3 linked regions of the Homo sapiens genome follow. The protein of the gene in region 1 interacts with the protein of each later gene in a biochemical or structural test. Each region holds a gene or a part of one and is shown on either strand. Other genes may lie near its edges. The genes, in order: HIPK2, TLE1 and MECP2.

The links.
Region 2: the proteins of HIPK2 (region 1) and TLE1 form a complex in vitro, tested with the Homo sapiens proteins (one study listed by IntAct).
Region 3: of the proteins of HIPK2 (region 1) and MECP2, one has a biochemical effect on the other in vitro, tested with the Homo sapiens proteins (one study listed by BioGRID).

What each region holds. Positions count from the first base shown.
Region 1 is NC_000007.14:139,711,910-139,715,557, reverse strand, and holds part of HIPK2 (homeodomain-interacting protein kinase 2), read left to right. Parts: intron 1-3,648.
Region 2 is NC_000009.12:81,588,548-81,592,195, reverse strand, and holds part of TLE1 (transducin-like enhancer protein 1), read left to right. Parts: intron 1-1,143; coding exon 1,144-1,391; intron 1,392-2,085; exon of another isoform or gene 2,086-2,688; intron 2,689-3,648. UniProt on the Homo sapiens protein: Transcriptional corepressor that binds to a number of transcription factors. Inhibits NF-kappa-B-regulated gene expression. Inhibits the transcriptional activation mediated by FOXA2, and by CTNNB1 and TCF family members in Wnt signaling.
Region 3 is NC_000023.11:154,091,167-154,094,814, reverse strand, and holds part of MECP2 (methyl-CpG-binding protein 2), read left to right. Parts: exon of another isoform or gene 1-437; intron 438-1,265; exon of another isoform or gene 1,266-2,605; coding exon of another isoform or gene 2,606-2,631; intron 2,632-3,648. UniProt on the Homo sapiens protein: Chromosomal protein that binds to methylated DNA. It can bind specifically to a single methyl-CpG pair. It is not influenced by sequences flanking the methyl-CpGs.

The sequences.
Region 1 (3,648 bases):
CCGCCTGGCCAGAACAGTTTGTGAGTGGTGGGAGATGTGAGTGAAAGCCTGGTTGGAACCAGGTCACTGGGGGTCTTAAATATCAGATCAAGGAATTGCAACTGTATCCTCAAACCCAGAGCAAGCCCTGGAAACCTTGAACAACATAAGGTAACGGGTTGAAAGGGATGTTCCGAGAAGGTTCCTTGTCTATCCACGTGCAGAAGGGCTGGAGGAAGGGAGAGACTAGTCTGGGGCCAGCTGGGTGGCTCCTGTGGTAAGGTGACTTCAGGCTTTGGGTCAGGATGAGGGAGGAATGATAGTGTCCGTGGCAGGGAAGTGTGTTCAGTCATGGACTCACACATGCAGTCATTCAACAAGCTTTGATTTCACTTTTAATATGTGCCAGCCGCAGTGCTAGGTATAGGGATATAGACAGGGCCCTTGCCATCCTGGGGTATCTGGAAGCTTTTCAGGGACCCCTGTATGCAGTCAGGATTGGAACCGCTGCCGACATGGAGCTGAGATCGGAGTGCTGGCTTTGGAGTCAGGAAAGGCCAGAGTGAACCTGGTCCCTCCTCTCCTAATGGCCTGATTTCTCCATGCCTTCATTTCCTAACCCATGAAGTGGGAGAAATCCTCTCACCAGCCTCGTGGGCAGCTGGGAGGTAACATGGCTGTAACATGGCTTAGGTGTGTCACTCCGTGGCTGGCCATGGCGGGTGCACAGCGGGGAGGCGGCAGGGATGGAAAGCAAGACCCTGCTCTGTGGAACCAGCCTGGGGGTGTGTTTGGGGTGGTGCCGAACAGTGCAGTGGAGATAGAGGTCACAAGAAACAAAACTGAAACTCCCATGAGAAGATGGGACGGATGCACATTTAAGAGCGTGCCACGTAGGCAGGAAGACCGGGGTCCCCGGAGGCCATCCTGCTTGCAAGCAAGCACGCTCGCTTGCCCGTGTGCTTTCTCCATGCGCCTTTCAAGGCCACAGAGAGAAGGCTGGAACATGCCCCAGGGCCTTGTCGACACAGCTGACCTGTCACCCATTCCTGGGGCTGACCTGGGCCAGCTTCCCCTTCTTGCTCCCTGTCCGGGCCCCCATCCTGGCTGCAGGCAGAGCTGTTGCAAGTCTCCTCCCAGCCCCTCCCTCAGCCTGCTGGGCACCAGGCCCTCCTTCCCTGGGAGAGCAACAGCCCCTCCGTTCGGATCCCCAGATGCCCTCCCACCTTCCACCCCGTCTCCTTTCATCCTAATCCTGACTCACACAGGAGGTTTCGAGGCCTCTTCACCCATGCTGTTTCTGTCTCTTCCCTCTTCCCTTTAGGAGGCATTTCCTGAGTTAGAACAGCTCTCTGCGAGCCTCTTCTCTGCCCTGCCCTGAGGATTCCTTTCCCGCTCATTTCCTATGCGCAGAAAGGTCTCCACAGGCCTGTGCTTTCACCACCAGGCCCCGTGCGGACAGACGGGTCTACTGCTGCCCCTCCACTTGCTCTCCACTCCCTCGTCCTGACCAGGCCATCCACTCTGTGCCCCGCTGGCCCCAGAGCCAATGGCAGGGAGAAGTAAGCCCAGGGCAGGAGCCTCCAAGGAAGACAAGAAGCCTCTCCTTGTCTCCAGAGGAGAAGGATGGGCAATGGTTGAGTGAATCTGGAGGGTTGGGTGCCCGGTACCGACAGCACATATTCTCTGTAGAGAGTGCCTGGGCCTCTGAAAGCCAGCTCTGGTGGCCGTCCCGGGTACCAGCCCCATTGGGGGCTAGCTGGTGCTGTGCTGGCTCTGGGAGGCTGCTGTGCCACTTCGTATTTAGGTTGGTAAATTCAGCATGCCAAAGGCTGGCTCTTTCTAGTTCTTGGCCTGAATTCAGGGTGAACAGCCCCTGACTTGGCTGCTAGGGCTTTTATGTAGTTCATCTGAATTGCTGCATCATGAACACGTACCAGTGTTATTAACATTCACTGAAAGCTAGCATGGCGACTTGTAAAAAGACTTCGACAAACTCTGTTTAAAAGGCAGCACATCCTTAGAGCGAAACTTGGTGAATCGAGTAAGCTGAATTGGGGATTCTTAAGACCCCCTTGTCATCTTGCCTTCTGGTGCCCATGTGACGCTTCCTGGAGCCCTCCCTGCCCATCCCCTTGGACTCTGCGAGTTTTTCTTTGCTTTCCTGCCTGGTGCTGGTGCCCCTAGTGCTGAGGAGACAGGTCGCAAAATCGGGGATCCTAGCTCAGGAAGCCTGCGGCAGCAGTAAAAGTTTGCCTGTGAGGGTTGGGGAGGGCTGACTCCTTCACCTGGACTCACAGCGATCCTCTCCTGCCCCCCTCTGTGGGTGAGATCAGGCCTTTTGGACGCCTCTGGTGGGTGTGGTAGGCTGGTTTGCTGGCGGTTCCTGGGCCCTCAGGAGCCCTCTTTTCCCCACTTCGTGACAGGCACAGTCACATCTGGCCCCTGTGTCCCCACATCCCTCTGAAGGACCCTCCGTTTAGTTGTGATAGTACCCTCTTTTCACCCCTGAAATCACCATTGCCTAAAATTCTGAGCAAGAAGGCCTCTTTCTCCTTTCTGTGGTCACCTTCAGGCCCTCATGTCAGCCTCCCTGTGCCCAGCCCTGGTTCCAAAAATACGGTCAGCAGGAAAGACAGCGGCTCTTCTGCCTGAAATGAGGCTTCATTTCTAAGTTGGTGCAATGTTCTGTTTCTCCCTCAGGCCTTGTCTGAGCCCTGCAGTGGTTTGCCACCATATAGATCGATCCGATTTTTCGAGGACAGTCTCTAGTGCTCTGTCTCTTTTCGTCCCAGCTGTGTGGGACAGCCAGCTCTAGGCCATGTTTATCAAGTTGATTTTCCTGGTGGCTTTGCCTCTTATAGGAAAGAAAGGGGGCAAGAAAAGCTCTTTAATTGTCCATCGTTAAGGCCCATGTCCCAGAAAGAAGACGCTTTCAGATGCTTTCAGCTGCATCTGCATCGTGAGGGAATGGCTGTGTGTTTGAGCCGCCTGGGCTGGAGGAGTCATTGCATGCTGTGCATCCAGCCTCCCAGCAGGTTGGCCTTTGTCCTGCAGGTGGTGGGTGGGGACTTTCTCCCCTCGGCCCCCTGTATCTGAGCTGGGCACATTATCGTCCCAGGACATCTGACTTTCAAAAGGTAGAGTACTTATGTGTCCCTCTGTCATTTTGCATGGGACTGGGCTAAGTGTCTCATCCCACCATTGTCCCCACCTAGTGACACAGAAACGGTGTGAGACAAGGATATGTTATCCTCGCCTTGGGGACTTGGAAAAGGAGGTGGTGTCCCCGGAGCCAACTGTTTTCCCCAGCTCTCAGGCATGTGCCTGGCCACAGTGGCTGTTGGTATTCTGTGAGGCAAGCCCACTGGTGTGTTTTTCAGGAAACAAAGGCTGCTTTTTAAGTTTTTTTCTCGAGTCTGAAGCAGGGGTATTCCCTTCCAATTCGAAGGTCAGTTATGTCATTAACTGTCAGCTGCCCAGGTTCTCAGGCTTTACTGTGCACAGGAATCTCCTGGAGAGGTTGCTGGGAACAGAGTCTCCCTGGGAGTACCCTGGGAGAAAGTCCACACCCACCACCACAGAGACTTGCCTCAGAGAACTGGAGGTGAGCCAGGCAGGGGGTCTTAGGACCAGTCTTTGAGAAACACTATTCTGAAGGACAGAGGG
Region 2 (3,648 bases), on another chromosome or scaffold:
TAGTAGAGACGGGGTTTCACCATGTTAGCCAGAATGGTCTCGATCTCCTGACCTTGTGATCCGCCCGCCTTGGCCTTCCAAAGTGCTGGGATTATAGGCGTGAGCCACCGCGCCCGGCCATGTTCCGATTTCTAAACCATAACCCCAGGATTTACAGAGCACATACCACTGGCCTTAAGCAGACTCCGAGCTGCCCTGCCCTGCCCTGCCCTGGTGTGGTGTCTGCCTGCACTCTGCTGTTGCAGATGGTGCCACGTACCCACTGCCTGCCTGGAAAATTGTAAGGATTCCAGAGAAGGTGTTTCCAAAAAGCAGAGTGGCGGTGTTTTGGAAACACAGACTTTTTTTAGAGTAGTTATTAGTGCATTTTTTAAAAAAACCAAATAACTTCAAAATGTCTTCATTCATGAAATTCTTATTTAAATATGGCCCAATATTCTATAGCAGTAGGAGTATCCTTTGTTGAAGTCATGTGCTTAAAGTTTCTTTAATCTTTGAAAGATAATCCATCGTTAAAAGCATGTAAGCAAACTTTAGCCATATCTGCATCTTTCAGGAGTTGATCATATGAGGGCCCCCCACCCACAGCCCCTTCATATGTGTCGGTTTTGATGGAAAGATGCCTGCTTTTATCAGGTTCTTTGGCCTTTGCATTGAGGGGCTTAAGTGTAACAGCAGCCACATGACAACTTGAGAAAGCAGCTCTGGTAAATTCTTAGCAAGAATCCTTCTGACTAATGAGGTAATGTGCTCAGCATAACGAAGACCGAAACATAGAGGATGGGCCTGCAGTTTCCAAGTGGTAAATAATGCAGGGTGATGAGGTAGATTTATAAACTAGCTTGGAAAAGTGGTTTCTTCTCAGGGAACTATGTGTACACCTGTACCTCATACCTAGATAGTTTCAGCTCTGTGATGCAGGACACCAGAAGCAGTTACCTAAGCTCCTGTGAATTTGTTTTGTTTACTATTTTGAAGGAGACAGTTGTACTTGGACCCCAATCTTGACTAGAGAACTCTTGCTCTGTTAGAGTGTCCATGAAACACCACTCTTAACTCAAAAAACCAAGACAGCCATTAGAGAACATGGTGCTATGATTGCTCGGTAATTCATTATAGCAATGAATTATGTTTATTCTACAGAACAGAGACAATTATATCCGTTCCTGTAAATTGCTACCCGATGGCTGCACTCTCATAGTGGGAGGGGAAGCCAGTACTTTGTCCATTTGGGACCTGGCGGCTCCAACCCCGCGCATCAAGGCGGAGCTGACGTCCTCGGCCCCCGCCTGCTACGCCCTGGCCATCAGCCCCGATTCCAAGGTCTGCTTCTCATGCTGCAGCGACGGCAACATCGCTGTGTGGGATCTGCACAACCAGACACTAGTGAGGTGAGCAAAGATGGTCGTCTAAGGAGGGGTTCGCTTCTTTAGCAGCTGGGCCTATCACCTCTGCTTCTCTCTGGCTGCCTGCAGCCCACACAATAAGAGCCTCTTGAATGCCAGGCATGGGGCTAGGTGATGAGGGAACAAAGACAACTGTGTTGCTGCCTTTGGGGGGCTTACAGTCTTATTACTATGCCTGGTGTCACCCGAGACTTTCTATCTCCTTAATGTGCCAATTCTTCAGCCCACATACAGACTCCAAACTTGTTCTAAAAATATTTCTGGCTTTTGCCAAGGGGTGGCCTAATGTGGATTACACGGCAGCACAAAAGGCCCTTGATACTAGATGTTTTGGGCTTTGGCTAGAACTTGGTGCAGACAAGAGCCAACTGATAAAAGATAACAGAAAATCAACAAAGGGACATGAGAAGAGGAGATTCTGTGAATTTTGCCTACAAAATGATTTTAAAGTATCTCAATAATGAAATAGACCTGCCCAGGGGTGGTTCCACCCAGGAGCCCGCAGGGCTCTGCCTGGCCTTCTGGCATCAGCCCTGTCACCTTAGCAGCAGCTGCAGTTCTGGTACCCATGTGTCTCTCCTCAGCTCCCCCGCCAAATGCTCCCTTCAGAAGTCAGTGCTCACACCAGAGCTGTTCTCAAAAAGTCTTTTTAAAGTAAGCATGAATGAAACATGAAAGGTAAAATGAGTACATGTTTTACTCTTGTTTCATCTTTGCTGGGAAGCCGTCCCTGCGGATGGTGCAGTTTGGGGTCTGTGGCTTGTTTGGTAAGTCCCCTCTCATGCTGCACAGAGAAGGGACGGGCTCCAGAAGTCATCATGACAGCTCACTCTCTTCAAACCTCCGCTGTAGAAATCCATGAAGTGTCATTGAGCCGGGCCCGGTCCCTGCGTGTGGGTGACAGTGCGGCAGTTACTTTCCTCTTCTGTTTGCTGGGTAGTGTAGGTGAGCAAAATGGAATGATGGAGCCAGGGCCGAACGCCCTCTCCACCTTTTATCCTAGCAAAAGTTACTTGTTTTTTTCTTTTTTTAAAACTCCATAAGTAGCACTTTCAAAATATCAATTCTAAGCACTTTTCAAATATTCCTCCACTTAGTTCTCATAACGTCTGTCCTGCTATTTGCCCCATTTTATAGAGGAAGTGCCTGAGGCTCAGAGAGGGTAAGTTACTGGCTTCAGGTCACACAGTCAGATGTGGTGGAGCCAAGTTGAGGCCCAGGCATTCTGCTCTCGTCTGTACTCTGAACCCTTGCTCCGTGCCGGCTCCTGGGGAGTAAATACCTGTTGGATAGAATGGGGTAGCGTCTTACAAATCTTTCTCTGGACCACTCACAGGTGGCTAGTGGCTGCTGCATGTAATAGGGCCATGTAAAGCCTATTGAATGTCTTTGTATCCACTGTAACCCAGCACGTTCTGAACAGTCATAGGATGTGCCTGAGAGTAATGCTGGAGTATAGTATATGGACGGAGAGAGGGCAGAGGGATGGGGGAGCAGCTGCCAGGTACTGTATGTCAGCAGAGGAAGGTGTTTTCAGTCAAGGAGGAACAGCGTTTCATGAGTTAGAAAGGTCAAAAGAAGTCAGAGGGTCACTGGATTTCCAGAGCTGTTTGAAGGGAAGGAAAGCAACACTTTCACCAAGTGAAGCAGGGACTGCTCCAGGCCTGGGTGTTCTGTGGGGATGTCTGGGAAGCAAGCGGAAACATTGGAGGTCCAGCTGCACGGCCGCAGGAGAGAGGACTCAACCTGGATCCTAAAGTGCAGAAGTTGGGGATGGCTTGCAGAGAGAAGATTTTAAAAGTGATGGTTCACGTCTTGGCTTAGAATTTAGGGCAGTAGTGGTGCTTTTTCCTTCCCTTGCACTCTTTAAAATCCAAGCTCAGGTTAAAAGTTTGGAGCTCTACAGGAATGATAAGGTGTGGGGATCCTGGAGGAAGAAGCAGCATGGTAACTTTCTTCTCAGTGTTGAAATTCCCACGCAGTTCTTTACTGGATCCCGCCTGCTTCTGAGGGTGGGTCTAGACTTTGCTCGCCTTTTCTGGCTGCCTCCCCCACCACCTTCCTCTCAGCATGCAGAACTGAGTCCACCAGTCACCGTCCCTGCTGGGGCTTACACTGACCTCCCCTCAGCAGCTCTGCTAGTTGCCTTGCACAGCATCTGTGCTCAGCAGATCCCTGTTGGCTGATCGTTTCTGATGGCGATTTTTGAATGAAGCACAAGGTTCTTTAAAGAACAACCTTG
Region 3 (3,648 bases), on another chromosome or scaffold:
CCTGCTTGGGACTCTGCATGATAAATGACGTGTCCTGGAACCTGAAATCTTTTATAAAGGTTAATATCAGCAGAAATCTTTTAATTAGCTAAGAGCAGCTTGTTCTCAAGCTGCCCGAGTTATCTTGGAGGAGAGAATCACAGGAAATGTTTGATATTTCTAGTAACCAGTGTTTTCAGTGCGTGGGGTAAAGCACACTCCTAGACTGGCCAGTCCCAAAGAGTGTGGCAGGACACCTGCTTGTTTTCCCTGCCCTCTGCTATGGTGACATCCTTGCAGACCAGTCTTGCGTGGCTGGCAGACGCAATCTTTTTTTCTTGGGTAGAGCATTATCACCGCTGCGATGGAAGGACCTTGTCCTCGGTGCCTCCATACCAGCCCTTTCCAGTGAAACTACTGCTGTCCCGGCAAGCCCCTGTGCGTGTGCATCATTCCGGGTAGGACAAGATGTGAACAGGTCCCTCTTCTTTGGGCTTAAGTAGAAGTTGTGCTCTTCTGCTTTTACCTGTGTGCTCTTCTGCTTTTACCTGTTCTCTTCTGCCTTTCTCTTGCAAGAAACCTGTCGAAAGCTTGCTTTGCATGCCATTGCTTAAATACTTTGATGGTATGTATGGTATGTGGGATAACTGAGTGGGAGCCGGAATTGGGGGGTGGGCAGGGCATCCCCACCCCCACCCCCACATCAAAGGGGGAATGACCATTTCGTTAGAGAATAAAGCCTGAGTCTTATAACTTCTTCAAGCACATGTATGCTGGGTCTCCTGGCGTGTGAATGTGTTCCCGCTGTGCTGTGTGGCTGTTTTGCAGTTACTGTAGACACTGTAGTCTGGGCTCTCATTATTGCCTCTGAAGTTGACAGGACCAAGCCTTAGTAAGGATGCACTTGTCTTCCTAGCCCAAGAGCTAGGGGTGTTTTATATATATATTAACTTTCTTTTTTAGATTTCATAAACTGCTCTCATTTTCTCTTTTCTTTCTTTCTTTTTTTTTTTTTTTTTTTGAGACAGTCTCACTCTGTCACCCATGCTGGAGTGCAGTGGCACGATCTCAGCTCACTGCAACCTCTGCCTCCCGGGCTCAAGCAGTTCTCTGCCTCAGCCTCCCAAGTAGCTGGGATTACAGGCACCTGCCACCACGCCTGGCTAATTTTTGTATTTTTTTTTTTTTTTTTTTTTTTTTTTAGTCGAGACGGGGTTTCACCATCTTGGCCACGCTGGTCTTGAACTCCTGACCTCGTGATCCACCCGCTTCAGCCTCCCAAAGTGCAGGGATTACAGGCGTGAGCCACCGCACCCAGCCTCTGGCTCTTTTCTTTTTGACATGAAATCTTAAGTTAATTATCTTAAACTTTAAGAACTAGAAGGATTCTTAGTCCAGCACCATCAGTTTACAAACAAAAAAAACTTGTGTCCCTGAGAAGTTGTGACTTTTCCAGGGCCTCCTAGCCAGGATACCAGTTTGGTTTTTATTATATAGCTAGCCGAGTAATACTATTAACTTGACTTCTGGGATTTCAAAGTATTCTATGACTTGACTGTTTAAGGGAATTATGAGGCCTCACTGAACCTCAAAAGATAATTTTAGGTACCATCCTGGTAGCTGTAGAGCAGCAACAGACCAGTAAAAGACTTGGTTGGTGTTGCCCTTCTTCTGGGTTTGATTACATGAGTAATTGTGTGAATAGTCTCTAAGTTGTATGCTCTGAGCTTTCGTTTTTAGCTTATAAAAGTGCTACTCTTGGGCCAGCATAGTATCAGAAATTAGCTAATTCATATGGGGCAGTTTAGGCTTTAACTAGGAAATGATGGTTATCTTAATGACAAAAAAGGTACTGACAAAAGTCCTTTTTTGAACATGTGTTCAAAAGAAAAAGAGAAACTATCAAACTAATAACTGAGTTTGTTGAACATCGAGATTGACTGATCTGAGAGGCTTAAAACTGATTGCCCTGAAATAGACTTGCATGTTTTGGATGATGGCTTTGGGTCTCCCAGAGCACTTGGTTTCCCTTGGTGCTGATTTTTTCTCTCAGGATTAAAGCCCCTTTATGTGATGTTGTTACAGCAGCTTATTGCAACTTCATTCAGCTGCTTGAAAAAGAAGGGAGACTGCCTCTAGGTTCCATGTGTTCTTTCAGGGATGGTATTTTGATGTTGCGTATTCTCTTGAACATGTATTCTTCCCTGAGAATTTCTGTGTGCCGTGGTAGAAGAAATACTTGCCAGAAATCGCCACTCATGGTATGCTTTTGTAGTGTCGAAGTGTCCCCTAGAGGTGACAAGGCTTGTGATAGTGTTGATTCTAACAAGCATGAATCTTTCCTTTATTTTAGCACTGTGTGTTACGTGCCAGTAATTTGCAGCTTATCCTTTGTTTCTAGCTAGGTAAGCTGGGAAATAGCCTAGTACTTTGTCTATGTGTTTATCTTCAAAATGTCCCAAATAGCCCTGGGAAAAAGGTCGTGCAGCTCAATGGGGGCTTTCAACTTACAATTTTCTTTGTTTTAGGCTCCATAAAAATACAGACTCACCAGTTCCTGCTTTGATGTGACATGTGACTCCCCAGAATACACCTTGCTTCTGTAGACCAGCTCCAACAGGATTCCATGGTAGCTGGGATGTTAGGGCTCAGGTAAGTAACCTTCCTTTTTTTTTTTTTAGTATATGTCCTGGTTTGGCCATCTGTTTTTTTTTTTTTTAAAAAAAAAAAAAAAAGGAAAAGAGGAAAAAAATATACTACTCTTGGACAGTATAAAAGTACCCCAAAGACTAAAGACATAACTGTGCCAAACTGTGCCATATAATAAAAAAAAGTCACTTCCCTGAGCCCTGAAAGGTCAGTGTGTGTAGGGTTACTTGGTCGCCACAGCGTGATCTGGGGGCGGGCGTCAGATTAGAGCCGGAACTGGTGATCTGCAACTTCAGTTCACCTTGAAGCAGGTCAGCTGAGCTGAGAGCGCTTGCACTGAGCCCTTTTGCGCTGCTGCTGTTGCCTTAGCGGTCTTCAGCATGTGTTTGCTTTGGTTTGGGGTAAATGGCTTAGTGGTCAACATTAGTGAGCAGTGGTAATGCATTTTCAGATATGGGAACTGGTATGTGGTTGGTTCCCTAGAAGGACACCCTCCTGAAAGCTGTCTCAGAACACCGGGGGCCATGGCTAATGTCATGTGCTTGCTACACTCCTCCCATGGTAACTAAAGAGAGTACCCAGATATACATCTGGTTCTTGGGACTCTAGAGGAGGATGAGTACTTTGTAAAAACCTGGGGGCCCCAGTCATTCTAGGTCTGACACTCAGGTGCTGTATCAGCTGCAGTTTGAACTACTTGGCACCATTGTGTGGACTTTAGTTTTGTAAAAATGAATGGTTCCTTAATTTCTCAACCTTCAGGCTCAACATCTCAAGCTGTTTGTTGTTGTTGTTGTTGTTGTTGTTTTGTTTTGTCTTTTTGATTAGTGGTCACTCCGCATTTGATGTTTTGACATGTGGATTTCAGAACTTCTGTGTGGTAAAGCAGAATGTTCCAATTGAATTTTCCCATTTTTTTTCCCCTAAGCAAAAATGTGAGTTTTCACTTATGCGGCCATTGTGATTCCGACTGAGACCCTAAGTCGTTCTTTGTTGTCTCTCTAGTGGTTTCTGACACCT